Regions from separate parts of the Homo sapiens genome. Here all the other regions are linked to region 7. Evidence: fine-mapped expression QTL. A gene starts in region 7. Each other region holds a variant in brackets. All regions are shown on one strand. Distances are between the middles of the regions.

Region 1 (4,339 bases), 71 kb before region 7:
AGATTCTTGTCACTGGTATCCAGAATGAATTTGAATAAGCTTTACAGAAAAGTGATTAATTTGGACCCTCCCCAGTGATTAACAGTATTCGATGTGGCCTGAGTTAAAATTAACCTCAGTATCTCTCTGAAGGAGGGTTTGGCTAGATAGACCAGCAGCTTCAGAGTGCCCAGCCAGGTGTGGACCATGAGCAGACTGGGAAGGTGGTGCATACTTGACATTAGAAATGGCGTCAGCGATGGCCCGGTTTCTAGTCTGGCTCACAAACATTGGTGTTGCTGAATTAGCAAATGTGACAGCATGTACTGTTTAAAATCCATTGTGAGTTAAACTGTGGACAATTTAAGCATGGGGTTAACTGGGATGTGGGGCACGTATGAGGAAAATGCTATTACTCAAGATGGACTAAGTGCTGCTTCTCTGCCAGGCCCCAGTGGTAACTGGCACATTGCAAGCCTTTGTGGCCCAGAGGAGGCTGGCCTGCCAGTCAGGGAACGCTCCTGCTGAAGCTGTCAGTGCCATCCACACAGCCTGCAGTTCCGTGGTTATTGATTCTAGTGATGGGGATAGTTTTCTACCACCCACCCCCATCTGTTCCCCTGTAGTTAGATGGGGTCTGCAGCTCCCTGCTGTCTGGACTTGAGCTGATTAAGTAACACCACGTGCAGTCGCCAGGATGAGGACAGAAGGGACATCTGATCCTGCGCTCCCCTCTGCTTCTGTCTGCAGGCACACCGTCCCTGCAGTCTGGTGGAAGAACGCCCAAGGCAAAGACCAGATGTGGTATGAGGATGCCTTGGCTTCCAGCCACCCTATCATTCTGTACCTGCATGGGAACGCAGGTACCAGGTGAGGGAGAGGAGCCCATCATCTTTGCTGTGGAGCATGGCTCCTTTTTGGGGTGGGAATGTCCTGGCCCGGTCTGCCGGAAACCAGCAGGAGCAACCTGCGGTCCCACAAAATTGGGTGTACTGACCCACTGCAATGAGGGAGAGCCTCCCAAGAACGAAGGGAAAGGCAGAGTTCTGAAGGGGTTGAGGGAAGGCGGAGTTTAGGTGACGTTTACATGAAGCAGGGTTCCCACAGGCTGAGGCCAGCACGGCTGTGTTCCGTGGGGACCAAGTGTGGGAAGCTGTGTGCAGACCGTCCCCTATCTGGAGCTGCAGCCTGGATTGGGATGAAGGAGGCTGAGTCTCAGTCAGGAGCTGAGCTCCCCAGCCAGAGGGGCATGTTTTTTTCTCCTTGTTGTAATCTCAAAGGTCACAGCATCTGCTGGTATGTGATTTGGGGAGCAGGGTTTCTTGGAGAGTGAGGGCTTTGGGGTCCCTCCGAGGAGGGGTCATAGTGGCACTTGGCTGTGGGTGCCTCGCGCTCTTGGGAATGGGCGGCTTCAGCTCACTGGCAGCTTGTTTTCTCTATATCTGTCATGCTGCCTGAAGTGGCAGGCAGATCTTTGTTACCTGTAAGATAGCTCCAGGTGGCAGACAGGTGAAGCCGGAGCCAGGGCAGCCCTGGAGGAGGTGGCACACTTCCTGGAAAAAAGTGGCAGGTGCTGAGAAGGGGCAGGAGGGAGAGGCTGAAAGCACCAGGTGCTGGGGTCTTTGCAGGCCACCCTACAGTGTGAGCTCTCTGCTCACCCTAACGGGCTGTTGCTGAAGTTCATGCACTCTTTGGTTAATCAGCCCTGCCCAGTTTTATCTCAGATGCTTTTCCTGAGTGGGTCTAATGGCTTGTCCTTTCCACTGGCTGCCCTGGAGTTGGCCTCCCTGCCTTAAAAGGGTGCTCCTTCCACACCATGTGATTGCTGTTCAGAAGAGCCTCTGTGGGAGAACCCAGGGTGGGTGCGGAGGGGATACATTTTCTGAACAAAGCATTGTTTGAAAACCACCAAGGTCTTCGTGTGTGAGAGAGGCAGCCAGGAGCCAGCACAGAGGCAGACCCAGCACGGAGACAGGGCTGCTGCGGGGCCAGGGCCGAGGTCCCGTGTGGCACCAGGGTATGTCAGGGCTGGGGGCAAACATTTTATAGGCAGAGCCAGCAAGGAGAGCTGTGCTGGGCCCTTCTGGAAGGGAAAGCAGGCCTAGGTGGGGTCTGCATGGTGGAACCCTGCAGAGAGCATTGCTGAAAGAGCCTGGCGGCATGGCCC[G/A]TGAAGCGGTTTCTGTGTCAGGGATGGCGTGTCTAGCTACAGAATCATGCATGTGCTGCACAGTTTCCTTTCTTCTTTGTCTGGGACAAGCTGCAGAGGGTTTCTCTTCTGCTTTTCAAAGAGCAAGTGGCTACAAACAGCTCTTGCAGCATCTTTTTATAAATGACAGAACTGTGGTTGGCTGTGAATAAGGTTCAGTTCTGCAGTGCCCATCACATGGTTAAAAAAAAAAAAAAAAGATCCTGCCTATAACTTTAGGTTAGAAAGGGATGCCGTGACTTTCAGTGTTTGCTGCCCCCTCCCAATCCTGCAGAGACTGCCTGGCTGCAGTCCTCGCCACCCCCACGTTGCCTGCTTTCTTTGTCCTGTGCATCCCACTGGGGTTTCGCTGGTCTGCGGGATCCACCACCCGGGTCCCCCTGAGGTCCAGACCCCCTGGATTCCCAGCAACTGTTCCTTTTTTGCTTAATGTAGGAAATTTTAGAAACTTAGAGCCACTGTGAACTCTTACAATGATAACTGAAAATATTTTGCAGTGTTTCCTCCTTGCCTTGAAACTCATTCCTTTATTTTTTATTTTAATTTTTGAGACAGAGTCTCACTCTGTTGCCCAGGCTGGAGTGCAGTGGCACAATCCTGACTCACTGCAACCTCAGCCTCCTGAGTTCAAGTGACTCTCCTGCCTCGGTCTCCCGAGTAGCTGGGATTACAGTCACCCACCACCATGGCCAGCTAATTTTTGTATTTTTAGTAGAGACGGGTTTCACCATTTGACCAGGCTGGTCTCAAACTCCTGAGCTCAAGTGATCTGCTCACCTCGGCCTCCCAAAGTGCTGGGATTACAGGTGTGAACCACCGCACCTGACCCTTTATATTTTTGTTTCTGTACTTTATTGGCTTCCTCCTCCATCTCATCCTGGTGTCCAACCAGCAACACTCCCGCCCCCATACCTGAAATGTTGAGACCGCTCCTGAGGAAGGAGGAGCACGGCTAGGGAGTGTGGAGAGTGTGGACCCGCCCTCCTCCCAGGTGGCCCATGTCCCTGCTGTGGGGTCGGTCCAGGTTAACAGCTGGCCAACAACTGGAAAGAAAGAGGGAAGGGAGCCTAGACAGGCCTCAGACAAGGAAGTACAAATGGGAGGGTGTGTGCCGAGCCCACTTAGTCTCAGTAGCGACATGCACGGTGAAGCTGTAGTTGGCTGTGAGGGGCGGGAGGCAGCCGTTCCGGCACTTCAGGGCCTCCCTGGGGAGATTCTAGGAGCATATCCCATGTGCAGAGCACACACATGTGAAGGGCTGTAAGGCAGGGTGGCCACAGCAGCAAACAGAAGTTAGTGCCAGGTGGGAAACAGTCAAGATGACCATGAGAGGCCAGGGTGGTGTGGCTAAGCAGAGTTCTGAAGGTCGGCTGAGACGTGCGGAGCAAGAAGTGAGGGCAGAAGTCGCCCATACGGGTCCTGTTGGAGCACAGCCTCTGTCTACACAGGGTGTCCTTGGCACAGGGAAGCTGGGAGGGTCTGGGGTGTGGTGGATGAGGCCTTGCTGTGTTTCCTTTAGTGTCTTTCTAGTTTGGGGCTGTAGGTGTGCATTACCTACTGAAAAATAAAAGCAGTCATTAAGAAATCTCCCCCAAAGTGCTAAGACCATCTCCCCCTTGGCACAGCACTGCCAGAGGCGAGTGTGGGGCTACTTAGGGGGACCCAAGGAAGAGGTTCTGCCCTCTTTCATTGGCCTCCCCCTGGTTTGGGGTATGGAGGACAAGTTGACCTGGGGCCCAACTCTGAGAAGATGTGCTCACACCATGTCCTGTTTTCTTCTCCAGAGGAGGCGACCACCGCGTGGAGCTTTACAAGGTGAGTGCAGGCAGCACCCACACCTGTTCCCTGGGCTGTTCTTTCCAGGGCAGGAAGTGAAGGGAGTCACCAGACTCACAGCTTGAGAGTTAACTATTGCTGGGCTGTTTGTGTGTGTGAGACAGGGTCCTCCTCCTCTGTTGCCCAGGCTGGAGTGCAGTGGTACAGTCACAGCGCACTGCAGCGTCGACCTCCTGGGCTCAAACTATCCTCCTGCTTCAGCCTCCTGAGACTGCAGGTGCATGCCGCCACCACGCCCAGCTAATTTTTGTTTGTTTTTTTGTAGAAATGAGGTCTCCCTATGTTGCTCAGGCTGGTCTCGAACTCCTGGGCCTCCCA
Region 2 (4,339 bases), 520 kb before region 7:
GACTAGTCCTCCTGGTGCCTGATGTCCAACTTGGGACTTTGTGTCCACCTGGAGACCGATGTCCATTTGGGACCAGATGTCCAACTGGAGCAAGATGTCCACCTGTAGCCTAGAACTTCACCTAAGGCCTGATGTTCCCCAGGGCCTACAGAGCCTATGTATCTACCTAGGGACTTGTGTCCAGGTGGGGCCTGAATTCCACCTGGGGCCTGGAATTAACCTGGGACCTGATGTCCACCTGAGACGTGGGTGTTCCTCTGGAGTCTGATATCTATCTGGGGCCCGGGTGTCCTCCTGTGGTCTGATGTCCACTTGTAGGCTGGTGTCCACCTGGGGCCTGGGTGTCCACCTAGGAACCTGATGTATACCTGAAGTCCAGTGTCTACGTGGGTACTGATGTCTACCAGGAAAGTGATATAAACCTGGGGCCTGATAGCCACCTGGGCCCTGAGTGTCCACATATGTTCTGATTTCTCTTTTGGCCTGAGTGTAGGGCCTGAGTGCCACCTGCTTCCTGATGTTCACCAGGAACCTAGGTATTCACTTGGGGCTTGCTGTTCACCTGGGGCCTAATGTCCATGTGAGGCCTGGTATTCAGCTAGAGCCTGGGCATCCCCCTGTGGCCTGATGTTCAGTTGCTGACTAGGAATTCCACTAAAGCTTGATGTCCACCTGGGGCATAGGTAACCACTTGTGGCCTAGTGTTGCCCTGAAGCCTAGGTGTCAACCCAGGGCATAATGTCCCCTTGGGGCCTGCTGTCCACCTGCAGACTGGTGTCTACATAGGGCCTGGTATCCACCTGGGGTCTGGTGTCTGCCTGGGGCCTAGTGTCCACCTGAAGACTGAGTATAGACCTCAGATCTGATGTATGCCTGGGGCCTATTTATCCACCTGGGGACTAGCATTCATCTGGGGCCTCATGTCCACTTAAGCCCTGGGTGTCAACCTGGTGCCTAATGGCCACCAGGGATCTATGTACTCACTTGGGGCCTGGTGCTCCCACAGGGCCTAGGTATAAACCTGGAGAATGATGTGCAGGTGGAGGTGGATGTCTTCCTGGGTGCTGGTGTTCACCTGGGGACAAGGGTCTCCCTGGGGACCAGTGTTTATCGGGAGCCTCATATGCACCTTGAACCTGCTGTCTACCTAGGGCCCGATGTCCATGTTAAGGCTGGGTGTCCACCTGGGACCTGGTTGTCCACTTGGGGCCTAATGTCCACCTAAGACCTAGTGTTCACCTAGGGCCTGGGTGTCCACCTGGAGCCTGATGTTCAGCTGGAGATGCATCCATCCGAAACCTAGGTATCCACCCAGGTTCTGGTGTCGACCTGGGGTCTTATGTCCACCTGGGGACTAGATATCTACCTGAGGCTTGATGTCCACCTGGAGCCCGATATCCACCTCAGAGCTGGGTGTCCACCCAAGTTCTGGTATCCACCCGGAGCCTGGTGTTCATCTGGGGCCCAGTGCCCACCTGGAACCTGGGTATCACCATGGGGCCTGGGTGTCCACTTGGAACGTGATGTGCACCTGGGACCTGAGTTTCCACCTAGGGCCTGATGACCACCGGAGACCCAGGTGTCCACCTGGGGTCTGATGTCTACCTGAAGCCTAGGTAACCACCTGTGCCTTGGTGTTACCTGTGCCTTGATTTCCACCTGAGCCTGATGTACACCTGGGGCCTGGGTGTCCATCTGAGGCCTGATGTACACCTCAAGTCCAGTGTCCACTTGTGGCCTGATGTCAACTTGGAAGCTGATATCCACCTGGGGACTGATGTTCTCCTGGGGTCTGATATCCAACTGGGATCAGATGTTCACCTAAGGCCTGGAGTTAATCTGGGGCCTGATGGTCACCAGGGACCCAGGTGTCCACCTAGGGCCTAGTGACCAACTAGGGCCTGATGTCCACCTGGAGTCTAGTATCCGCCTTGGCCCTGATGCTACTTGAGGCCTGGGTGTCTTCCTAGAACCTGAGTCCCCAACTGGGCCCTGATGTCCACCTGAGGCCTGGTGTCCTTGTAGGGCCTGATATCTACCTAAGGCCTGGGTATCCTCCTGCAGCCTGATGCTCACCTGTAGGCTGGTGTCCATATGGGGCCTGGGTGTTCACCTGTGAGCCTGATGTACACCTGGAGTCCGGTGTCCCCTTGGTTACTAATACGTACCAGGAAAATGGTATATACCTGGGGCCTGATATACACCTGGAGCCTGTGTGTCCACTTGAGCCCTGATGTCCACCTGGGGCCTGGTGTTTACCTGGGGCCTCTATCCACCCACTACCGAAAGTCAAGTTAGGAAAAGGGCCCAGGATAGGTGAGGAGCACAGAACAGGGACCTCATTCATAAGAAATTCTGCTGTAGAATGTGTGCTCTAAGCTCTTAAAACAGCTCTGCCTCAGGAAAGACTGTCCAGGGCATAGGAAGCCCACACACAGGGTGGGATGACAAGTTTGCATCTGGCATGGCTGGGAGCCCTGGGGGCCTCTGCCCTTTTGGCCGCGTTGTCTCCTGGCTTTTAGGGTGGTGGGATTCTCGGCTCTGATTGCAGCAGGTGGATTCACTTAGCTCTCCTCCCCTTTTAGCATT[A/T]CTGTCTTCTGTAATAAACCTCTCACTTTGATCTGCCAGGCTGTCAAATGCTTTGATTGCCCTCTCTGTTTTGTTCCAATGGTTCATCAATCCAAATATCCACAACACAAGGACAGATTTTAGTCTCTTCATACAGTGGGATATTTCACAGCTATTAAAACAAATCAAATAAATGCTTGTGTATTGATATGCAAAGTTGTCCTGCATCAATAACTTTTAAACACATTTTATGATCCCACATCTATATCTATACATAATGTTTGCCACTGCTTAAACAAAACAAAATCTAAGCTTTAGACTCCAAATGGAATTACAGGGGAATCTTGATGTCTGTGTTCTGCAGTTCTGTCATGTTTGAAATTGTCAAATAAACATGGTGCCTTTCCAGTAGCCACTCAGAATTCCTCCTCTCTGTCCACAAAGCATTGTCACCCTCCCTGTCCCATTTGCCCCAGCCCTGTGGAGCTCGCTGAGCTGGCACCATCATCTCTTGTAATAGACGAAGACATTGAGGACCAGAGAGGGGAAGCACCTTGTTGACATCCCACAGCTCTGAGTCAAAGTGGACTTGGTCTCCCTTACTAGATGTTTCCTAAAGTCCAGGGAGCCCTGGAGGCCCAGGAATGTAAGGGCTGGAGCCTGGGGCTTTCTGTCCTGAGGTAGGGGAGCTCACGGCTACAGTTCACGGCTTGAGTGCATTTCCTCTCAAGTACAATAACGGCTGCTTTGTAAGATGGAAAATATAAATGGCTGCCTGCAAATTTGTCAGGTAATGTGTTTGTCTCCCCTATGGGACTGTAAACTTGGACCTGTCTGAATCACCCTAGTGTCCCCAGCACCAGGCCAGAGCCTGACATATAAAATGACTGACTTCATTAAATACCAACACCTTCTAGGTGCCAGGTACTGCTCTAGATGCTGGAATCTGCAGTGAATAAGATACCCAGAATCCCTGCCCCTCACTGTAGTAGAGCAGAACAGATGATGAATAAGTAAGCATGCAGGGTGTGAGATGGGTGGGAGACCGCATTGTGGAACCAGGCAGTGTGCAAAGCGGACACTCAGGAAAGAACCTGAGGGTTGAGCTGTGGATATAATGTGGATATGATGTGGATATGATGGAGGAAATTCGCCCCTAACATGAGTGGAGACACTCCAGCTACAATAACAAGCGAAGGTGGAGAAGGAAGCACAGAGGCAAGCAGCTGGGGAGATGTGGGGGTGGGATCCAGGGAAGGTTCTCTCTTTATTGCATCTATTTTCAAATTGAAATAGGAAGCAAGGCAACAGGTGTAAGGAAGGCTGAGGAAGGTTTTAGAGGTTTAAGGAGGAAGGAGGAGGCAAGATACTGTTGCTTGGGGACAGGGCAGCACTTCTAGAGCTGGGTGCCTGGGCTCCAGGGCAAGTCACTTCATCTCTTCCTGTGCCAGCATCTCCTCAGCTGTGAAATAGTGATTATTATAGAACAGATTCATAGAGTTTGATGATAATTAAATCAGTTGGTATTCATAACATGCTTAGATTATATATTTTTTTATTAAGATAACAAAGAAGTCTGGCAGACTTATGGACTCAGGAAATGAGTGAGTCTGTAGAACATCATCCAGTGCCCACTGGAGGTTTGGGCTTGATGATTAAATGAGAGCAAAAGGCATGTGTGTTTCTCTCTGGCTGTGCACAGCCACCTGAGTGCAGGAGCAGAGGGAGTGGGTGCCTGGTTTTCAGCAGAGTGCAGTTTTCCCCTGGGAGT
Region 3 (4,339 bases), 410 kb before region 7:
TCTACAAAAAAACATATATAAAAATTAGCTGGGCGTGGTGGTGCATGCCTGTAGTCCCAGCTACTTGGGAGGCTGAAGTGAGAGGATCGCTTGAGCCCAAGAGGTTGAGGTTGCAGTCAGCCAAGATGGTGCCACTGTCCTCCAGCCTAAGCAACAGAGTGAGACCCTGTTTCAAAAAAAAAAATTATATTAAAACACACAACAAAATTTACCAACTTGGTCATTTTTAAGCATATATTTTAGTATCATTAAATATATTCACAATGTTGTGGACCAGGTCCCCAGAACTTCTGCATCACGCAAAATGGAATCTCTATAGTCATTAAACAACTCCCCATTTTTCCCCTTCCCTCCACACCCTAGTAAATACCATTCTACTTTGTGTTTCTATGAATTTTTCTACTTTAGATTACTCATGTAAGTGAAATCACACAGTCATTTTGTGACTGGATTCTTTCACTTAGCACTCAAGATTCATCCATGTTGGAGCATGAGACAGGATTACCTTCCTTTTTAAGTCTGTGTAATATTCCATTGTGTATATATTATGGGCCTTCCGTATCCATGGGTTCTGTGTCTCTGGATTTAACCAAACTCAGATTTAAAATATTCAAAAATATGTTAAATTTCACAAAGTTCCAAAAAGCAAAAATTGAATTTTCCCTGAGCCAAATACTAAGTCAAATCCACACCAATAAAGTTATATGTAGGCACTGTACTAGGTATTATAAGTAACCTAGGAATCTAGGTATTAAAGTAATCTAGGATTTAAAGCAGTGGTCCCAAGCCCCAGGCCGTGGATGGGTACCAGTTCATGGCCTGTTAGGAACCGGGCCACAGAGCAGGAGGTGAACAAAGGAGCCAGCAAGTATTACCGCCTGAGCCCCACCTCCAGTCACATCAGCGGTGGCATTAGATTCTCATAGGAACATGAACCCTATTCTGAACTGCACATGCAAAGGATCTAGGCTGCACACTCCTTATGAGAATCAAACTAATTCCTGATGATCTAAGGTGGAACAGTTTCATCCGAAAACCATCCCCCTGACCCTGTCCATGGAAAAATTGAGCCTGGGAGGTCAAGGCTGCAGTGAGCCGAGATTGAACCACCGCACTCCAGCTTGGGTAACAGAGTGAGACCCTGTGTCAAAAAAAAAAAAGGAATGAAAAGAGAAAGAAAATTACAAGAAAGTAATTATAACATCTGTTACAACGTGGATGAACCTTGAAGACATGCTTAGGAAAAACAGACAAACACAAAAGGTCACATATTGTATGATTCTATTTAAAACATTCAGAGTAAGTAAATCCATATGGATGAAAAGAGCACTGGCAGTTGTCCGGGGCTAGGAGGAGGGAGAAATAAGAAGGAGGTGCTTAACAGGTAGGTACAGAGCTATATTTTGACATGGAATTGTTTGGAACTAGATGGAAGCAATGGTTGAGCAACACTGTGAATCTACCAACTGCCACTGAGTCGTTCTCTTTACAATGGTTAGTTTTATATTATATAAAACTCACTTCAATAAAGAAATCAATCAATGTATAAAACACTGAATGTCACCTCAAATCCCATGATTAAGGCAGAGACTCATTGGCCCCATGATTAAATGGCTTCCTCTCCATTCACTCCCAAGCCTGCATACATTTGTCAGTGTGAATCTTAGCAGGGTGTGACCCACACCCTTTGCAGCAACCAGCTCAGAAAGGCAAACCAGGAACTGCTGTAGCAACAAACCCACACCAGTCAGGACATGGCAGTGATGCAGCTTCTCTAATTTGTGCCCTGGCTTCCAACTCAGAACCAAGCAGAGAAAGCCAAATGTACTCCCATAACCAGTCATATGAGATGCCT[G/C]AATGCTTATTAGACACTTCCAGTGTCCCATGTCAGTAGCCTCCAGTCAACAGCACATCTGATGCCTTCCCTTTTGTTCACTACAAAGCTTTCCCACTTTGTCAAAAGTGGCTGACTCTCTTGCTTTAGCAAGCACTTTCTAAGTGGGCCCTGATTGTTCCCGTTTGAGTTGTCTTTATTTCCACACAGCTGTCAAGCCAGTACCAGGGATTTTCACATTTCGGTGACCTTCAGTGATAATCACATCTACCATCGCACACCACAGTACACAGACACTCTCTCCTAAACAAAACGCTTTCTTCAACAATGGGTGAACATCCTATGTACAAATGATGAAGTAAAAACACAGTGCCATTCAGATCTTTACTGATATTTAAACAAACCATAGAGGAAAATTCCAAATAAACAATACAGACACAAAAAAATAAGTGCTGGTTGAAACTACTGAGAAGTGACCTGCAGTTTAGTGAATCAAAGGTTTTCCTTATTCTTTAAACACTTTTTAATAACAGGCATGTCCTTCCTAGAGAAGCACATACCTTTCTCCTAATTTTATTCTTGCCAAAGATTATATCGTATTTCTTTACAATTACATACTCTCCTCCACACCTGTGGTTATGTCTTACTTTTGGTTTTCTTTTTCTTTTTCTTTTTTTTTTAAGAGATGGGGCCTTGCTCTGTTACCCAGGCTATTCCAAGTGATTCTCCTGCCTCAGCCTCCCAAGTAGCTGGGACTACAAGCAAGCACCACCACACTTGGCTAATTTTTGTACTAGAGACAGTGTCTCACTCTCTTGCCCAGGCTGGTCTTGAACTCCTGGTCCCACGTATCTTCCCACTTCAGGCTCCCATAATGCTGGGATTTCAGGTATGAACCACCATGCCTGGCCATTTGGTCCTTTTCCAGCTTCTTACATTGGTATTAAACTCATTTATTTGCTTCTTCTTGTTTTTATCAAAATATCTTTCAGTTTCCGAAATGTATGCTGAATGTCATTTCCTTTCTTTATGCTGCAATTTTTACTTTTACTTCTTCTGTAAGCTAAGACTCCAATGTATGTTTTCAATGTCCAAATGGATACATTTTTTGTTACCTTTCATTTTTAAATTTCTGCATTGTGGTCAATGTCTCTCGCATTACTTCTGCCTTTTCAAATTTATAGTTTATTTTTGAAACCAAGTACCTGATAAGGACTTCTGAATTTTCATGTTTTAGAGTAAACTGTAGTATCTAAAAGGAAAGTGTAGGTGTGTATATACACATACACAGAAATCAACTGTTCATATTTCATCTCATTTTTTCTATTGTTTCATACTCTTTAATATTGTCTCATTTTTATTTTAAAACATCTACTAAATTATATATGTAAAGAAAACATACAAAATACACTTTTTTTTACTATTTATATTACACTTATAAATAGATGTGTTTAAAAACACATGACAAGAAGTTCCAAGATGGCTTCAATCCCCACCACAGAAAACCAAAACCAAATATGCACCTCCAAACTCCTCACCAGCAACAACCCGGAGCTCAAGTACAAGGGTGAGACCATTCCCAGGGCCACAGAGAAGAGGAAAAACTTCAAGCAAAGGACAGGAGAATTGGACTTCCATATCCATGATGCCCCTCCCCCTATTATGCCTGGCACCAGTCTCCCTGCAGCTCATGGTTTCTACAATGGAAAAAGTGAAATTGAGGTTGTCAGCCACTTCTCCAACTTCTTGGATTCCCAGGCAGGAGACCTCTCCATGCTTTAACCCATGGGTAGCATCGTGACTGCCTGAAGGGAGAATTAACCCTAAGGACAGGCAGAAACAAGCAGGGTAGGCAGGACTACCACCCCCAGCCTCAGAAACCGCTTTGTAACTCAGCCAAAGGAGATGCTAAATCAGAGTGTCTGTTCACCAGCACCATGCTGTAGGAGGGAGTTCCCCAGGTCCCCTGGGCATGAACTCCTAGACAATCTTCCCTCACTGCTGGGATAATATCTTTAGGACCTCCTCCATTTAGGACAGGCAGCGCTCTGACCACTTAGAAGAGAAGAGGCAAACCTGGGCTTAACGTGCCACCTACAGCCACAGAGAAGGCAGCGACTTAGTAGCAAAGATTCACCAAGCAAATATGTTCAATAAAAAGCAAAATAAGCCAGAGAAAACTAGAATAAATAACTAATCTTCCATTGCAAAAACATATATATATACCCACAAGAAACAACAGTAAACAGACGAATATGACCTCCCCAAAAAGACAAACCAAAAATCCAGAGAGTGACCCTATCTAGATGGCAACTTGTGAGCTCTCTGACCAGGAATTCAAAATAGCAGTTTTGGCTGGGCAAGTGGTGACTCGTGCCTGTAATTCCAGCGCTTTGGGAGGCCGAGGCAGGCAGATCACTTGAGGTCAGGAGTTCAAGACTAGCCTGGCCAACATGGCGAAAACCCATCTCTACGAAAAATACAATAATTCAGCTGGGGTGGTGG
Region 4 (4,339 bases), 84 kb before region 7:
CAAAGGGAATGCTTCCAGTTTTTGCCCATTCAGTATGATATTGGCTGTGGGTTTGTCATAGATAGCTCTTATTATTTTGAGATGTGTCCCATCAATACCGAATTTATTGAGAGTTTTTAGCATGAAGGGTTGTTGAATTTTGTCAGAGGCCTTTTCTGCATCTATTGAGATAATCATGTGGTTTTTGTCTTTGGTTCTGTTTATATGCTGGATTACATTTATTGATTTGCGTATATTGAACCAACCTTGCATCCCAGGGATGAAACCCACTTGATCATGGTGGATATGCTTTTTGATGTGCTGCTGGATTAGGTTTGCCAGTATTTTATTGAGGATTTTTGCATCAATGTTCATCAAGGATATTGGTCTAAAATTCTCTTTTTTGGTTGTGTCTCTGCCCGGCTTTGGTATCAGGATGATGCTGGCCTCATAAAATGAGTTAGGGAGGATTCCCTCTTTTTCTGTTGATTGGAATAGTTTCAGAAGGAATGGTACCAGTTCCTCCTTGTACCTCTGGTAGAATTCAGCTGTGAATCCATCTGGTCCTGGACTCTGTTAGGTTGGTAAGCTATTGATTATTGCCACAATTTCAGCTCCTGTTATTGGTCTATTCAGAGATTGAATTTCTTCCTGGTTTAGTCTTCGGAGGGTGTATGTGTCGAGGAATATATCCATTTCTTCTAGATTTTCTAGTTTATTTTCATAGAGGTGTTTGTAATGTTCTCTGATGGTAGTTTGTATTTCTGTGGGATCAGTGGTGATATCCCCTTTATCGTTTTTTATTGCGTCTATTTGATTCTTCTCTCTTTTCTTCTTTATTAGTCTTGCTAGTGGTCTATCAATTTTGTTGATCCTTTCGAAAAACCAGCTCCTGGATTCATTAATTTTTTGAAGGGTTGTTTGTGTCTCTATTTCCTGCAGTTCTGCTCTGATTTTAGTTATTTCTTGCCTTCTGCTAGCTTTTGAATGTGTTTGCTCTTGCTTTTCTAGTTCTTTTAATTGTGATGTTAGGGTGTCAATTTTGGATCTTTCCTGCTTTCTCTTGTGGGTATTTAGTGCTATAAATTTCCCTCTACACACTGCTTTGAATGTGTCCCAGAGATTCTGGTATGTTGTGTCTTTGTTCTCGTTGGTTTCAAAGAACATCTTTATTTCTGCCTTCATTTTGTTATGTACCCAGTAGTCATTCAGGAGCAGGTTGTTCAGTTTCCATGTAGTTGAGCTGTTTTGAGTGAGTTTCTTAATCCTGAGTTCTAGTTTGATTGCACTGTGGTCTGAGAGATAGTTTATTATAATTTCTGTTCTTTTACATTTGCTGAGGAGAGCTTTACTTCCAAGGATGTGGTCAATTTTGGAATAGGTGTGGTGTGGTGCTGAAAAAAATGTATATTCTGTTGATTTGGGGTGGAGAGTTCTGTAGATGTCTATTAGGTCTTCTTGGTGCAGAGCTGAGTTCAATTCCTGGGTATCCTTGTTGACTTTCTGTCTCGTTGATCTGTCTAATGTTGACAGTGGGTTGTTAAAGTCTCCCATTATTAATGTGTGGGAGTCTAAGTCTCTTTGTAGGTCACTCAGGACTTGCTTTATGAATCTGGGTGCTCCTGTATTGGGTGCATATATATTTAGGATAGTTAGCTCTTCTTGTTGAATTGATCCCTTTACCATTAAGTAATGGCCTTCTTTGTCTCTTTTGATCTTTGTTGGTTTAAAGTCTGTTTTATCAGAGACTAGGATTGCAACCCCTGCCTTTTTTTGTTTTCCATTTGCTTGGTAGATCTTCCTCCATCCTTTTATTTTGAACCTATGTGTGTCTCTGCACGTGAGATGGGTTTCCTGAATACAGCACACTGATGGGTCTTGACTCTTTATCCAATTTGCCAGTCTGTGTCTTTTAATTGGAGCATTTAGTCCATTTACATTCAAAGTTAATATTGTTATATGTGAATTTGATCCTGTCATTATGATGTTAGCTGGTTATTTTGCTCATTAGTTGATGCAGTTTCTTCCTAGTCTCGATGGTCTTTACATTTTGGCATGATTTTGCAGTGGCTGGTACCGGTTTTTCCTTTCCATGTTTAGCGCATCCTTCAGGAGGTCTTTTAGGGCAGGCCTGGTGGTGACACAATCTCTCAGCATTTGCTTGTCTGTAAAGTATTTTATTTTTCCTTCACTTATGAAGCTTAGTTTGGCTGGATGTGAAATTCTGGGTTGAAAATTCTTTTCTTTAAGAATGTTGAATATTGGCCCCCACTCTCTTCTGGCTTGTAGAGTTTCTGCCGAGAG[G/A]TCTGCTTTTAGTCTGATGGGCTTCCCTTTGAGGGTAACCTGACCTTTCTCTCTTGCTGCCCTTAACATTTTTTCCTTCATTTCAACTTTCGTGAATCTGACAATTATGTGTCTTGGTGTTGCTCTTCTCGAGGAGTATCTTTGTGGCGTTCTCTGTATTTCCTGAATCTGAATGTTGGCCTGCCTTGCTAGATTGGGGAAGTTCTCCTGGGTAATATCCTGCAGAGTGTTTTCCAACTTGGTTCCATTCTCCCCGTCACTTTCAGGTACACCAATCAGACGTAGATTTGGTCTTTTCACATAGTCCCATATTTCTTGGAGGCTTTACTCGTTTCTTTTTATTCTTTTTTCTCTAAACTTCCCTTCTTGCTTCATTTCATCTTCCATCACTGATACCCTTTCTTCCAGTTGATCGCATTGGCTCCTGAGGTTTCTGCATTCTTCACGTAGTTCTCGAGCCTTGGTTTTCAGCTCCATCAGCTCCTTTAAGCACTTCTCTGTATTGGTTATTCTAGTTATACATTCTTCTAAATTTTTTTCCAAGTTTTCAACTTCTTTGCCTTTGGTTTGAATGTCCTCCCGTAGCTTGGAGTAATTTGATCGTCTGAAGCCTTCTTCTCTCAGCTAGTCAAAGTCATTCTCCGTCCAGCTTTGTTCCGTTGCTGGTGAGGAACTGCGTTCCTTTGGAGGAGGAGAGGCGCTCTGCTTTATAGAGTTTCCAGTTTTTCTGCTCTTTTTTTTCCCCATCTTTGTGGTTTTATCTACTTTTGGTCTTTGATGATGGTGATGTACAGATGGGTTTTTGGTGTGGATGTCCTTTCTGTTTGTTAGTTTTCCTTCTAACAGACAGGACCCTCAGCTGCAGGTCTGTTGGAGTACCCAGCCGTGTGAGGTGTCAGTCTGCCCTTGCTGGGGGTTGCCTCCCAGTTAGGCTGCTCGGGGGTCAGGGGTCAGGGACCCGCTTGAGGAGGCATTCTGCCCGTTCTCAGATCTCCAGGTGCGTGCTGGGAGAACCACCGCTCTCTTCAGAGCTGTCAGACAGGGACATTTAAGTCTGCAGAGGTTACTGCTGTCTTTTTCTTTGTCTGTGCCCTGCCCCCAGAGGTGGAGCCTACAGAGGCAGGCAGACCTCCTTGAGCTGTGGTGGGCTCCACCCAGTTTGAGCTTCCTGGCTGCTTTGTTTACCTAAGCAAGCCTGGGCAATGGCGGGCGCCCCTCCCCAAGCCTCGCTGCTGCCTTGCAGTTTGATCTCAGACTGCTGTGCTAGCAATCAGCGAGACTCCGTGGGCGTAGGACCCTCCGAGCCATGTGCGGGATATAATCTCCTGTTGTGCCGTTTTTTAAGCCAGTCGGAAAAGCACAGTATTCGGGTGGGAGTGACCCGATTTTCCAGGTGCCGTCTGTCACCACTTTCTTTGACTAGGAAAGGGAACTCCCTGACCCCTTGCGCTTCCCGAGTGAGGCAATGCCTTGCCCTGCTTTGGCTTGCGCACGGTGCGCGTACCCACTGACCTGCGCCCACTGTCTGGCACTCCCTAGTGAGATGAACCTGGTACCTCAGATGGAAATGCAGAAATCACCCGTCTTCTGTGTCGCTCACGCTGGGAGCTGTAGACTGGAGCTGTTCCTATTTGGCCATCTTGGCTCCTCCCTCAACACAATTCCATGCATTTGTTTTTAAAGCAAAGGGCCAGCTTCCTCTTTTTCCTTCCCCTGAGCAGTCCCTGTTGACTCCTGTTACCTTTCTTTTCTTATCCCCTTTTTTCATACGGAAGGTCCTGTAAGCCTGCATCAGGTAATTGGAATTTGATAAAACCCAAATAACCAACCCAGGCTTTCCCTTGACACCACACCTCTTATGGCTGCCGGTATCAAGGCTGCTCTGTTACTCACAGTGATTGGAATGAGACTTAGCCCCCTGTTCAGACCCTCAGCACTCAAAGACCATCACAGCTCAGTAAGTTTCAGCCTTTCCCGCAACAAATATTTTGCAGGTGAGCTAAAAGAAGTATGACAGAGCAGGTCGTTTTCCATTCACTCACATTCTCACTTCTTC
Region 5 (4,339 bases), 40 kb before region 7:
GCGGACAGACAACCCGATGTCTGTAACAGACAGACTGTGGGGAAAACCTACAGAGAACTGAGACACCACGGCCAGTCCAAGGTGAGGACTCACTGGGCCCTCACTCAGACCAACTTTTAGAAATGTCTGTTACTTTACAAAGACAACTGGGCAGGGGACCCATGAAGTACCCGAGTGAACATTTCAGGACACGGAGGACTCCTGTCCAATGCTTTAGGTGTGACGGATGGTGGTACTGTGTGGTGATGTTTCAGTCTACTCCCATTGTGGTTCTGGTGGAAAACATCATTTTATGAAAAGGAATGCTGACGTATGTAAGAGTGAAGAGCTAGAGTGTCTGCAGTTTACTGTGAAATGCTTCAGCTAGTCTGGGTGACAGGTTTATGGTTTTGCTACAATTCTTCCTGCTTTTCTCCAGGTTCAAATGTTTCCTTCTTTTTTTTTTCTTTTTTTTGCTGAGACAGGGTCTGGCTCTGCTGCCCACACTGGAGTGCAGTAGTGCAATCACAGCTCACTATAGCCTCAATCACCCAGGACAATCGATCCTCCTACTCAGCCTCCCAAGTAACTGGGACTACAGACATGAACCACCACGCCCAGCTAATTTTTGCACTTTTTTGTAGAGATGGGGTTTCACCACACTGCTCAGGCTGGTCTCGAACTCCTGGGCTCATGCGATCCACCCGCCTTGGCTCCCAAAGTGCTGGGATTACAGACGTGAGACACCGTGCCCAGCCTAAAATTTTCATAATAACATTTAAAACTTTTTCGAACTCCGTATCTCTATGGACTTTACATACTGAAATACTGACAAATAAAATGACACAATTCCAAAATTTGCTTCAAAAACAGCAGGTGACAGGAGTGGACAGAGACCAAATGGGGTGTGCCAGGAGGTGGCGGAGCCCAGAGGAGTGCCCACCCCTCTGACCAGCTTCCCACTCGCTGAAGGCAGCAAGAGGGCAGCCTTCAGGCTGCACACAGGCACCAGCACCCCCAGGCCCCGGCCTTGCCGTGGAGGGCTGGGGTGCCTCACACAGTCCAGACTCACTTAGGGCCACTGCTCCAGCAGGACCCTCCTAAGGACGCTGCACCCCACAGCAGCCTCACAGTTCTGGATAAAGACCAAGCTACTAGGGAAACATGGCAGGAGGTGGGGACACTGGCCGCAGAGGGCTGATGAGTGTGACGATGTGACCTGGGACTCGATGACAGCACATCTAGGACTCTGAAAGTATGTGTCATAGTAAATAAAGTGAACTGAAACCAGGCAATGCTCAGGGCATGTGCAGGTGATGAAGCAGCCACAACGCCCTGTGCCCACTGGGCACAAAGAGAAAGGACACTGCCCTCTCTGAGGTGGGCACCAGCAAGCCCACTGGGGACTGGCCCTCTAGGCTGGGGACCCCTCCAGTGAGCTGGGCAGGCAGGAGGCTTCCATCCCATTCTGACTCTCTACAGGGTCCCCACCCCCACAGGCATACCAGAGGGGCCGGTGACCGCTGGGCATCCGGTTCCCGAGTATGGATGTGGTGGCACCATGAGAAGCGTGCAGGCTGCCCACCCACTATCCCCAGACCAAACACCACAGAGAGGACTGCAGAGGAAGTCACTCACCTTGCCCCCAATCATAACAGTCCTGGGCACAAAAGCCTTGGCCGGGTCTCTCTTGATTCCTGCAGGACACACGGAAGAGACTCACACAAGGCACCGCGAGCCGGACGAGCCCCTGCTGGGGCCCAGCAGCATCAGAGGCCGACCCTGAGGCAGGACAGGCACGCTCCGCCATGTACTTCAAGCCCCAGAGACACGGGTGACAGTGGCACAGGGCCACTGGCCACCCACCTGCCCACCCACCAGGAACCTGCCACTTACAAGGGAGTGAGGCCACCCTGAGGTCTGCACTTAGGTTCCCCGCTGGTGAGGAAGGCCAGCCAGGACCATGGACGAACCCAGCAGCTGACTCGAGCAAAGATGCTATTCCCCGGGGCTCAGAGGAAAAGCTGCACCTCAGTTTCCAGAAAAGCCCAACACAGGAGCCTCCTTGGGTCTGGTCACCAGTGTTCAAGGCCCCT[G/A]TACATGAAGGGCACACTTGTGGGTTTTGTTTGGTTTTGTTTCTTGAGACAGCAGCTCACTCTGTCGCCCAGGCTGGAGTGCGGTGGTGTAAGCGTAGCTCACTGCAGCCTCTACCTTCCAGGTTCAAGCAATCCTCCCACCTCAGCCTCCTGAGTAGCTGGGATCCTAGGCACGTGCCACTGCGCCCAGCTAATTTTTTAATTTTTTGTAGAGATGAGGGTTTCTCTACATTGCCCAGGCTGGTTTCAAACTCCCACGCTCAAGCAACCCTTCCGCCTCAGCCTCCCAAAGTGCAGGGATTATAGGCGTGAGCTACCGCGCCTCGCACTCTACCACTCTTGGGTTTTTTTTGTTGTTGTTTGTTTTTGTTTTTAAGAGTTAAGGTTTAGCTCTGCCACCCAGGCTGGAGTACTGTGGTGTAATCCGGGTTCACAGCAGCCACAGACTCCTGGACTCAAGTGATCTTCCCCTCCTTAGCCTCCCAAGTAGATGCGACTACAGGCACCGACAGGTTACCACATGCAGCTAATTTTTTCACTTTTAGTACAGATGGGGTTTCACTTTTTTGCCCAGACCAGTCTCAAACTCCTGGCATCAAACAGTCATCAGGCCTCAGCCTCCCAAATCACTGGGATTACAGGGGTGAGCCACCACACTGGCCTTAAATTGTGTTTTAAACACATTGTTTGGATGACACAAAGAAAAAGTGGCAACCTCAGCCTTGTGGCTGTGGTGCCATCAGCCTGCAGGGGCGCTGGGTGAGACCTTGTGTCTCCCCTCTGCCTCACTGGGACAGCGGGTGAGGGCCCCCAAAGTTCTTCACAGAAGTGGATGGAGGGTCAAGCCATGACGGCCGGCTCACTGCCAGCCCAGCAAACAGGCTGTCCTCGCCAGGTCATTTGTTTGCAGATTTCACGGGAGGTTCCTACAAAAAGGGGATGAGCGGCCACCCTGGACAGGCGTTCACCAGCGAGCCGGGCCTGGGTGAGGCAGCAGGGAGTCGGGCTGATGTGTACCACCCAGCCCCAGGCTCCAGGAGGAATGCAGCTGCCCCTTAAATGCTGGATCTTGTCACTTCTGGAAATCAGCAGAGAACAGGAAAAACGAAACACACAAGTGATGATTTCACCACAACTAGGAAAGAAGGAAACCATGCAAACCCCAGGTCACAGTGGGCAGGGGACAGGGTCATGGGAGTCCTAACCTCTGGGGAGGGGCACTCTGGGCAGAGAGCTCCAGTCCTGGGGGCCACCAAGGAGCCCCCGGGGAACAGCAGGTTTGGGCAAGCGCCTCTCCCACAAGGGCACCCTCACAAGGCAGGTCCTGGCCTCCAGAGGAGCCTCCCGCCCAGGTGAGACCCGGAGAGACAGCAGAGGCGCAGCCACAGGCTGGGGAAGCATGGCCTTGGCCCAGCAGAGGAGCTGCCTTGGAGGGCTGAGAAGCCTATTCCGAATAGCCCCAGGTGATCCAGCTCACACCAACGTAGCAATGGAAGTCAGCACCCAGCCCCGCCACAGGCCACAGGAGGGGAGTGAACCCCTTCGCAAATCACATACCCTTGGTGACCACCAACTTGGAAAGACATGGAGCCAAATGCCAAGTCCTCAGGGAGGGGGGCAGAGAGCAGAGGAGAGGAGCAGAGGGCACGGGAGGAGAGTGCAGCCGGCAGAGACTCCAGAGAGCAGTGCCACTCCACAGGACAAGGACAAACCAAGTCCTGAGAGAAGTAGGCACCAAGGAAGAAGGCCAGAGAAAGCCACCTCACGCCACACTGCAGCCCAGAAGCAGAAAACCAAACAGAACCAAACACACGTTTCAAACAGACAACTTCCCTGAAGTCCAGCAACACGTTCAACAAGCACCCGGAGTATTGGCGAAAATGCCCTGTAACGGCCAACACCAAGACACGGCAATGACAGTGAGTCACTGATGAGATCGAGAACTCAGACATCGCCAGACTTCTGCACACACACCCACCCTCCAGACAGTGCCCGGTAGGGCCCTAAAAAGCACTGGGGGAAGGAAGTGGAGTTAAGACTGGCATCTTCAGCCAAACCGACCTTCATGGTGAAGGGTCCAGGCCGTTTTGAACAAGCAAGAACTCGGGAAGGTTGTTCCCATGAGCCAGTCATGAACTAGACACAAAGTGGCCAGCAGGGCTGGGCAGCACTTTGCAGAAGGACCGTGAGAAGCAGTGAACATACTCACCACCAGACTCAAACTGATACAGCTGGGGACAGGAGGAAGGGCAAAGTATTGATGC
Region 6 (4,339 bases), 340 kb before region 7:
GTGCAGAGCATCAGGAGCACTGAAGAGAAGACATTCTTCACAATGGCAGCCCCCATGGCTCTGAGCACCCCTGGGAATCCAGGGTTATAAACTGGAGTCATCGGGGTCTTGGCTGCGCATCCCACAGGGACCACCTTTGCACGGTGTGTCCTGCCATTGTGCCCCACACTGGTTGGGACAGGTCATGGGCATAGCAAAAGGTATCTGGGCACATTCAGCAGGTCAGAGAAACCTCCCAGCCTAGAACACACTATGAGCGTCTCTGAACCACTCCCTGTGTTTGCCTTTTGCTCTGCATGGGGTTTAGCACTTGCAGGCACTTGGAAATTTCACTCGCCCTTGGAAACTCCGTTCCCCCATAGCCTGTCTTTCATCCTGCTTCCTTCTCACCCCATTTTGCCTCTGATCCTCACATCCTCTAAAGTGGAGTTCCTACAAAGTATATGCACCTTTCTCATGCTACAGTGTACTGTAGCTCATTTTGTAATTCTGATATAACTCTCTGACATTTTTGTATATTTATGTTTTTATTTTTATTTTTTGGAGACAGAGTCTTGCTCTGTCGCCCAAGCTGGAGTCTAGTGGCAAGATCTCAGCTCACTGCAACCTCCGACTCCTGGGTTCATGCAATTCTTGTGCCTCAGCCTCACGAGTAGCTGGGACTACAGGCGCGCGTTAACCACAACTGGCTAATTTTTTTGTGTTTCAGTAGACACTGGGTTTCACCATGTTGGCCACGCTGGTCTCGAACTCCTGTCCTCAGGCAATCTGCCCACAGTGGCCTCCCAAACTACTGGGATTACAGGCATGAGTCACCGTGCCTGGCTGTATTTACTTTTTTTTTTCTTTTTTTGAAATGGAGTCTCACTCTGTCGCCCAAGCTGGAGTGCAGTGGCTTGATAACCACAACCTCCGCCTCCCAGATTCAAGCGATTCTCCTGTCTCAGCCTCCTGAGTAGCTGGGATTACAGGCATATGCCATCACGCCCGGCTAATTTTGTATTTTTAGTAGAGACGGGGTTTCTCCATGTTGGTCAGGCTGGTCTTGAACTCCCGACCTCAGGTGATCCGCCTGCCTCAGCCCCCCAAAGTGCTGGGATGACAGGCATGAGCCACTATGCCCGGCCGGGTATTTACGTTTTTAAATTGTTTTCTGTGTAAACTCTATAAGGGCCAGGGATTTTTTGCACCGCTGTTGGCAGCCCCTAGGACAATGCCTGGCCCTAGTAGGTGTTCGATAAATATATACAGGTTGAATATCCCTTAACCGAGATGCTTGGCACCAGAAGCATTTAGGATTTCAGATTTTGGAATATTTGCATTATACCAATTGAACACCCCTAATCTGAAAATCCAAAATTAGAAATGCTCCAATGAGGCCAGGTGCGGTGGCTCATGCCAGTAATCCCAGCACTATGGGAGGCCAAGGTGGGAGGATCACTTGAGGCCAGAAATTCCAGACCAGCCTGGGCAACATGGTGAAGCCTCCTCTCTTAAAAAAATACAGGCCGGGCGCGGTGGCTCACGCCTGTAATCCCAGCACTTTGGGAGGCCGAGGCGGTGGATCCATCCCTTGAGCCTAGGAGTTCGAGACCAGCCTGGGCAACACAGTGAGACTCTGTGCTAAAAATACAAAAATTAGCGGACATGGTGGCAGATGCCTGCAGTCCCAGCTACTGGGGGTTGGGACGCTGAGGCGGGAGGATCGCCATAGCCGGGAAAGTCGAGGCTGTAGTGAGCCATGACCGCGCCACTGCATCCCAGGCTGGGCAGCAGAAGTGACAGCCTTTCTCAAAAGAAAAGAAAGTTAAAAGAAGAAAAAAGAAGTGCTCCAATGTGCATTTCCTTTGAGCATCAGGTCAGCGCTCAAAAACTTTCAGATTTTGAAGCATTTCGGATTTCAGATGTTTGGATTAGGGATGCTCAACCCGTATTGATTTAATATGCGGTGGAAACGTGACGACCTAGGTTTTAAGTCGCGGTTTCCTCAGTGGTGGGTTTGGGGTAT[T/C]ACCCCTGCCTGGCCGGCCTCCGGGCTTGTTTCCAGAAGATGCTACCCCGAGAGCTGCGAACCGCCAAGCTCCGCAGCGCGCAGGGCTCCGACAGGGACCAGCGAGGTCAGCTCCAAGGGTCACCCCAGGCTCCAAACTGGCCAGAGCCGCCCTGAGATTTGCGGAGGCCGCCTTGCCCCCACCCCGCCCCGCAATCCCGGACCCGACCCGCCCCCTCTCCCGTTCGCTCGCCCCGCCCCCTGTTCGCCCACTGCGCCGGGACACCGAGGGGGCGGTGCCTCGAGGCCGGGAGGAGTGTTGCGTCGCGGCCTCCAGACACAAAGAGCGGCCGGCGGTACGGGGGTGGTGCCGCGCTCCTGGCCCCGCGCGGGCGGACGGCGGAGGCGCCTCCCAGGTGAGCCGGCCCGGGCGTCCGGCGGGACATTCAGGCGGCTGGTGGGGTCGAGAGTCCGGGGCCGCCCCTGCGTCGCGACCCGCGCCTTAGTCACCAGACCCGGCTCCGGGAGCGCGGCCTCGGGTGCTCCTCGCGGTGCGGGGCGCAGACTCGGCGCATCTGCTGTGGTGCCTGCTCTTCCGGTCGCCCTCGAGGGCGGGGCGGGGGTCACGCCCTAAAATACAGCGCCCGCTGGGCCGAACGCTTGAAAACCCGGTTTCCCGACGGCGGCGGCGCGGGCGCCGTGCGAACGAGGGCCCGGGTCCAGCACAGCCCCAAGGCTCGGCCTGAGGCGGGCGGCCTTGGCCGGGGCCCCCCGTGGTAATGAGCTACGCGGTGCCCGCCGCCTGCCCAGCGCGGGCCGTTTCTCCTGACGCCGCCGGCGTCTGGTCGAGGCCCAGGATTCCCTCCTGCCAGTGTGGCTGCGGCCCCCCACGGAGCGGGACCCGCGTTCGTGGCGCTTGGGACGGTTGATTGAAAGGGTGTAGAAGTCTGTTGCGAATTTTATCTGTTGTACTCGTTTTGCAGATTCGCCCCTTTCCTCCCGCCTGTGCGCGCAGTCACACACACCATGTGGGAGTCTCTGATCGCGTTGGGTTCATAATCATCGATCGTGCCTGGGTACTGATGCCCCATTGTTAGGAGCTCTGTGTGGGGCTGTATGTTTGCACAGGACTCACGTGAGGAAGGGTGGCCACGTTTCTTTCTGCTCTGTGAGACTTAGGCCAAGCCCTGGAACTAGGGAGGAGGTTCAGGAAGAGACCCATGAAGCTGGCGGGGCCTTGGAGAAGGGCAAGTGATTTTCAAGGTCAGTAGTAAGAGGGGTCATGAGTAATGGTAAGTTTCTTAGCGGCCTTTGCTGTGACTTCTAGGTTTTTCACACTGGACTTAAAATACTTTTAAAAGCAGAGTTTTTGTTCTTCTTGTTGTTGTTCTTGTTGTTGTTGCTGTTTTTGAAACGAAGTTTCACTCTTGTTGCCCAGGCTGGAGTGCAATGGCGCCATCTCGGCTCACTGCAACCTCTGCCTCCCGGATTCAAGCGATTCTCCTGCCTCAGCCTCCCGAGTAGCTGGGATTACACGCCCAGCTAATTTTTTGTGTTTTTAGTGGAGATGGGGGTTTCACCATGTTGGCCAGGCTGGTCTCGAACTTCTGACCTTCAGGTGATCCAGCTGCCTCGGCCTCCCAAAGTTCTGGGATTACAGGCGTGAGCCACTGCACCCGGCCAAGTTTTTGTTTTGTTTTGTTTTTGTTTTTTAATTTTATTTTACTTTAAGTTCTGGGATACATGTGCAGAACGTTCTGGTTTGTTACATGGGTATACATGTGCCATGATGGTTTGCTGCACCTATCAACCCGTCATCTAGATTTTAAGCCCCACATACATTAGGTATTTGTCCTAATGCTCTCCCTCCTCTTGCCCCCCACCCGCCCCGACAGGTCCCGATGTGTGAGGTGTGTGATGTTCCCCTCCCTGTGTCCATGTGTTCTCATTGTCAACTCCCACTTATGAGTGAGAACATGCGGTGTTTGGTTTTCTGTTCTTGTGTTAGTTTGCTGAGAATGATGGCTTCCCACTTTATGCATGTCCCTGCAAAGGACATGAACTCATTCTTTTTTATGGCTACGTAGTATTCCATGGTGTATCTGTACCACATTTTCTTTATTCAGTCTATCCGTGATGGGCATTTGGGTTGGTTCCAAGTCTTTGCTATTGTAAATAGTGCTGCAATAAACATACACGTTTATGTGTCTTTATAGTAGAATGATTTATAGTCCTTTGGGTATATACCCAGTAATGGGATCACCGGGTCAAATGTTATTTCTGGTTCTAGATCCTTGAGGAATCGCCACACTGTCTTCCACAATGGTTGAACTAATTTACACTCCCACCAAC
Region 7 (4,339 bases):
AGGGACTATCTTGTTCATGAAGGTCATTTCCGTAATCCCTGAGCCCATCGCTGGCCTCTCCAGGATGTGATTATACATAAATACTCCAATGGGCACCCTAAGGTGTAGAGCTGAGTCCTGGTCCAGCTCCAAGGAAATGCCCTTGAATGTGAAGGCAGAGCTATGTCCTTGCCATCCGCCACTTAGACAATAAAAATGATGTTGCGGGTCGGGTGCGTTGGCTCACGCCTGTAACTCCTGCACTTTGGGAGGCCGAGGCGGGCGGATCACGAGGTCAGGAGTTTGAGACCAGCCTGGCCAACATGGTGAAACCCCGTCTCTACTAAAGATACAAAAAATTAGCCGGGCGTGGTGGTAGGCGCCTGTAATCCCAGCTACTTGGGAGGCTAAGGCAGGAGAATTGCTTGAACCCGGGAGGCGGAGGTTGCACTGAGCCGAGATCGCGCCACTGCACTCTAGCTTCACGCTACAGGGCAAGACTCAGAATTAAAAAAAAAAAAAAAATGGTGCTGTGCATCAGAACTCTCCCAACAGCAGGGAATTCTGGGGGAGCCACTGCTTCTTGGCTGCTTTTCCTGGCAAAGTCATCCCAAGCCCTTGTTATAACCTGTTTTGGCCATTCGTTGCCACTTCTATGTTTTGCATACCAAATATGAAGAGCCCCAGTTGGTATTCTAACAAATCTGTCCCTTTTACCATCTCCATTTTAGAAAAAAGAATGTCCCAGAATAAGTTTGGAAAAGCAGTCAATCTCTTAGCAATTACCGTATTAAACATATCTTAATGCCCTACAAAAATATTCTAAAATACCATCCATAAAGCAAGTGCTCACTGCCTAGATGTACACTGCAAGTAAAATCTTTGCCAAGTGGCTTCAGGTCTGGAAGTGTGTCTTTTCCTCACCAGTTCTCCCTCTACGTTAGTGTAGTAGAAAGACAATTCTCCATGGTCAAGAGTTTAAAAGCAAACGACAACAACAAAAAACTGGCAACAGGGGGCTGTGCAAGACTACCATGTACCTATCAAACTGAAAACTACCATCCTATCCATTGACCTGCAAAGCTGTTTATCAGTGAAAAAGTTACAAATGTTTACGAATGAAACAGAAAATCTAAAAAACTGTATGTGCATTATACTTTTTAAAAATGTGTATGTATATTTAGGAATACCAAAAACACAGCAAGAACACAGGCCCATAGTAAACATGGTTAAGAGTAACGGGGACAATCAGTGACTTTGTTTCACTACTCAAACAAATTTTTGCAAGATATAAAAAGTAACAATTAGTAAGATGATCTCTGTCAACTTCAACCCAAGCAAATTTCTCCAAGGGAGGTGTGGGAACCTCTAAGACAGAGCCTTCTTCGAGGGCTCCATCTCCATCTCTGAGCTTCGTACCCCTCCCTGCGTGAAGCAGGCATCTTCAGTGATTTTCTTCTAAGCAGCGTACACAAAAAAAAGTCTCACAATTCCCTGCAGATTACCGAGCTCACCCCATTCCAACCCACAAGGCTGCCCAGGCCTGGTTCCAGTCCCATTTTCTCCCACAGGCTGCTGCAGGAAAACAAAGAGTGGCTGGAGGCAGGGGCGGGGAGCACCGGCTCTGCAGCCAGCGCGGAAGCGCACGGCCAGAAAGAGACCGGGAACGTCCGCCAGGCTCCCGGGCTCAGCATCATCTGCGGGGGACGGCGGACCCCGCCAGGCGCGGGCTCCCAGTGGGGCGGACCCGTGGCCGCGGCCCTGCGCAGGGGACGCCCGGGCCCCGCCGACTGCGGCTTCCAGGCGACTCCCCAGTCGGCTGTGCCTGGCCGCCGGCCGGCTAGGGGCGCAGGTAACGCCCGACGGGCCGCCCCGCAGAGACCCCCGCTGGCGCGGCTCCGGGACCGGCGCCCTCTCAGCGGGCACGGGCGCACAGGGCGGGGCAGCGCCTCACCTTGGGGTCGCGCTCGTAGTAGTGCTGCTGCGTGCGGATCCAGCGGCCCACGAGGTGGTCGCGCACCGTGTGCGCCAGCGCGAAGAAGTAGTCGCGGGGCGTGGCCACATTGCGGTCCTTGACCAGCGTGAAGTGCAAGTGCCGGTTGAAGCTCTTCCGCACCTCGGCCACGTCGCCTAGCCCCGCCAGGCCGCGCACGCTGATCTGCTTCCGCTTCTCGCTGTCCGTCAGCGGCTTCGCCATCGCGCCGGCGGAGGCGGAGGAAAAGAGATGGAGGAGGAAAGCGGCGGCACACGCGAACGCCGGGATGGTGCAGCTGCTCTGGCGCCGCTGCTCTGGCGCCCGGCACTGCGGCTCTGCGGGCGGGATGGACCGCGCCTGCGCGCCGCGCCGGGGCGGGGCCTCGGGGGGCGGGGCGGGGCCTCGGGAGGGCGGGGCGGGCGTCCAGGCTCATAGCTGAGATCTCTGGTGTAGTCCGAGGCGGCAGCGACCTGTCCACGCCACCTGAGCGTGGTGTTTGCCCCCTCGTTGGGCAAGCCCGGCAGAAAGTGGGAGCGACTGGAGGGGGCAAGGGACCCGGGGCCTCGGAGCGTGCCGTCGTGGCCGCTCCTGCCAGCCCGGGGACGGTGCGGGAAGGGGGCCCTGCCCTCCGGCCCTCGGGTTCCTGGGACCGGCCCTCCCGCCCTGCACCGGGTCACCAGGTGCCCCGCGGGAGCGCGCTGGGCTCGGGCTGTGGCCGAGACCTGGTACACGTTCGGGGAAACTGATTACAGCTTGAAAGGCATCCACCAACGCCTGCTGGGCCCGGTCTTCTCTGTCCGGGGCAGGGCGGCTCTGAAAATACCAGCTATTTGCTTGCCACTCCAGGCCGATGACAGACGTGGAGAAAACCAGCTGCCAGCGAGCTGGAGACGCCCGTTCCCGAGGGCGCGAGGCAGCCACAGCCAAATGCCACCACGACCCCGCCTCGGAGGGACCGCAGCCCCCTAGCCCTCGGAGAAACCCTGTTCCCGAAACCACCTGGCAGACGCTGTCCGCTTTGAGATTACAGCAGGGAGAAGGAAACATGCCCGTCTGGCCGGGGAGCTCAGCCACTAACCGAGACTTAGCCTCTGTCATCCCAATCCAGGCTGCAGCTCCAGATAGGGGGCGTCTGCACACAGCTTCCCACACTTGGCCCCGCGGAACACAGTCCTGCTGGCCTCAGCCTGTGGGAACCCTGCTTCATGTAAAGGTCACCTAAACTCTGCCTTCCCTCAACCCCTTCAAACTCTGCCTTTCCCTTCGTTCTTGGGAGGCGCTCCCTCATTGCAGTGGGTCAGTACACCCGATTTTGTGGACCACAGGTTTGCTCCTGGTGGTCTTGGGCTGAAGGGGCTGCAAAGGTTACTGAATTTCGTGGAGGTAAAAATTGCCCGCAGGAAATGTCATGAAAGTCCAGGTGCAGTAGGTTTCCTGGTGTGATGCTTCAAAGTTATCTTCTTACCTGGAGCCCCTTCCAGCTGCAGACTTCAGAGGTCGGAGGTTAATCAATCTGGAATGACCCCACAGCCCACCCAGCTCCAGCTCGGGATTCACTCCTGCACTATGTCCTAGGGATTCTGGAGCCAACAAGATCGAACTTCGGGCACAGATGGCAGGGCTGTGGGGTCGAGCTTGGCTGCAAGCTCCGAACACTGATGCAATCTCTCTGAGGGTGATCTGGCAATTCAGAAGTCATAAAAATGATAGTGCCCTATGACCACTTCTACCACTCTGGGGAATTGAGTTCAAGGAAAGCTTAAGAAGACAAAAAGCAAGTTATGCAAATATGTTATCTGCTGTGGTGTGGTAAAGTTTAATCCCCCAGCTGTGGTGCACACCTGGCAAAGAATGGAGGCGCTGACACTTATTGATCATTACTTGCAGTGTACACGTATTAACTCCTGATCCCTGCAAATAGCCTGCTATTACCCCCGCTTGACAATGGAGAAGGTGAGCCACAGAGAAGTTAACTCTTCCCTAAGCCCACACAGCTAATAAGGGAAACAGCCAAGGTTCACCCCAGCCAAGCCCTGCTCCACTGCACAAGCCCAGAAAAATGTATCTGTGCTCAAAGTTAATATCATAAACCATTGTGCTGCTAAAAGGAATGACTGTTTTAATAGCTAGCTAGGAAGGTGTGATTGATGACACAATACTGATAAATGAAACACAAAAATAAGGATGTAATGCAGAAATGACAGTAATGATTTGAATATTACTTTCATTTAGTCAATTTAAATTTAAATTAAATAACCACATGTGGCTAGGGACTACTGTGTTAGAAACACAGGTGTATATCCAAACCTAAACACTGGTTATTTCTGAATGGAAGAATTATCAGGGGGGTTATCTTATTTTCTCCATACATTTTGTATTTCCTGT

Which allele goes with the higher level. Alleles are on the strand shown, and positions count from the first base shown. SD is a standard deviation of normalised expression in the study named. Not every link is listed here.
For the expression in thyroid of the gene that starts at base 2,270 in region 7, C is the high allele of the variant in region 3 and G is the other (small effect, 0.27 SD a copy in GTEx).

Evidence for each region.
Region 1: its variant is fine-mapped to the expression of PYGB in whole blood (TOPMed, PIP above 0.99).
Region 2: its variant is fine-mapped to the expression of PYGB in whole blood (INTERVAL, PIP above 0.99).
Region 3: its variant is fine-mapped to the expression of PYGB in thyroid (GTEx, PIP above 0.99).
Region 4: its variant is fine-mapped to the expression of PYGB in whole blood (TOPMed, PIP above 0.99).
Region 5: its variant is fine-mapped to the expression of PYGB in blood mononuclear cells (TOPMed, PIP above 0.99).
Region 6: its variant is fine-mapped to the expression of PYGB in unexposed skin (GTEx, PIP above 0.99).

What each region holds. Positions count from the first base shown.
Region 1 is chr20:25,316,709-25,321,047 of GRCh38, reverse strand. ABHD12 (abhydrolase domain containing 12, lysophospholipase) reads left to right here. Exons shown (of 13, transcript NM_001042472.3): 4 at 730-849; 5 at 3,970-4,000. Among named protein-coding and RNA genes, the nearest start is that of PYGB, 71 kb to the right of the region's middle. RefSeq lists a silencer at 1,589-1,668 and enhancers at 2,019-2,258, 2,289-2,348, 3,462-4,071. The variant G/A (reference allele first, on the strand shown) is at 2,147.
Region 2 is chr20:25,768,238-25,772,576 of GRCh38, reverse strand. All of the region lies in intron 3 of FAM182B (family with sequence similarity 182 member B), which reads left to right. Among named protein-coding and RNA genes, the nearest start is that of FAM182B, 26 kb to the left of the region's middle. The variant A/T (reference allele first, on the strand shown) is at 2,590.
Region 3 is chr20:25,657,613-25,661,951 of GRCh38, reverse strand. The region is part of intron 2 of ZNF337-AS1 (ZNF337 antisense RNA 1); the gene reads right to left. Among named protein-coding and RNA genes, the nearest start is that of ZNF337-AS1, 36 kb to the right of the region's middle. The variant G/C (reference allele first, on the strand shown) is at 1,856.
Region 4 is chr20:25,329,548-25,333,886 of GRCh38, reverse strand. The region is part of intron 2 of ABHD12 (abhydrolase domain containing 12, lysophospholipase); the gene reads left to right. Among named protein-coding and RNA genes, the nearest start is that of ABHD12, 59 kb to the left of the region's middle. RefSeq lists an enhancer at 3,096-3,617. The variant G/A (reference allele first, on the strand shown) is at 2,284.
Region 5 is chr20:25,285,762-25,290,100 of GRCh38, reverse strand. PYGB (glycogen phosphorylase B) reads right to left here. Exons shown (of 20, transcript NM_002862.4): 15 at 1,618-1,676. Among named protein-coding and RNA genes, the nearest start is that of PYGB, 40 kb to the right of the region's middle. The variant G/A (reference allele first, on the strand shown) is at 2,076.
Region 6 is chr20:25,583,519-25,587,857 of GRCh38, reverse strand. It overlaps NINL (ninein like), which reads left to right and starts at 2,327. Exons shown (of 24, transcript NM_025176.6): 1 at 2,327-2,403. RefSeq lists a silencer at 2,263-2,392. The variant T/C (reference allele first, on the strand shown) is at 2,009.
Region 7 is chr20:25,246,016-25,250,354 of GRCh38, reverse strand. PYGB (glycogen phosphorylase B) reads right to left here and starts at 2,270. Exons shown (of 20, transcript NM_002862.4): 1 at 1,934-2,270. The coding sequence starts at 2,176. RefSeq lists silencers at 1,627-2,006, 2,317-2,506, 2,517-2,706, 2,887-2,966, 2,985-3,238 and an enhancer at 2,157-2,236.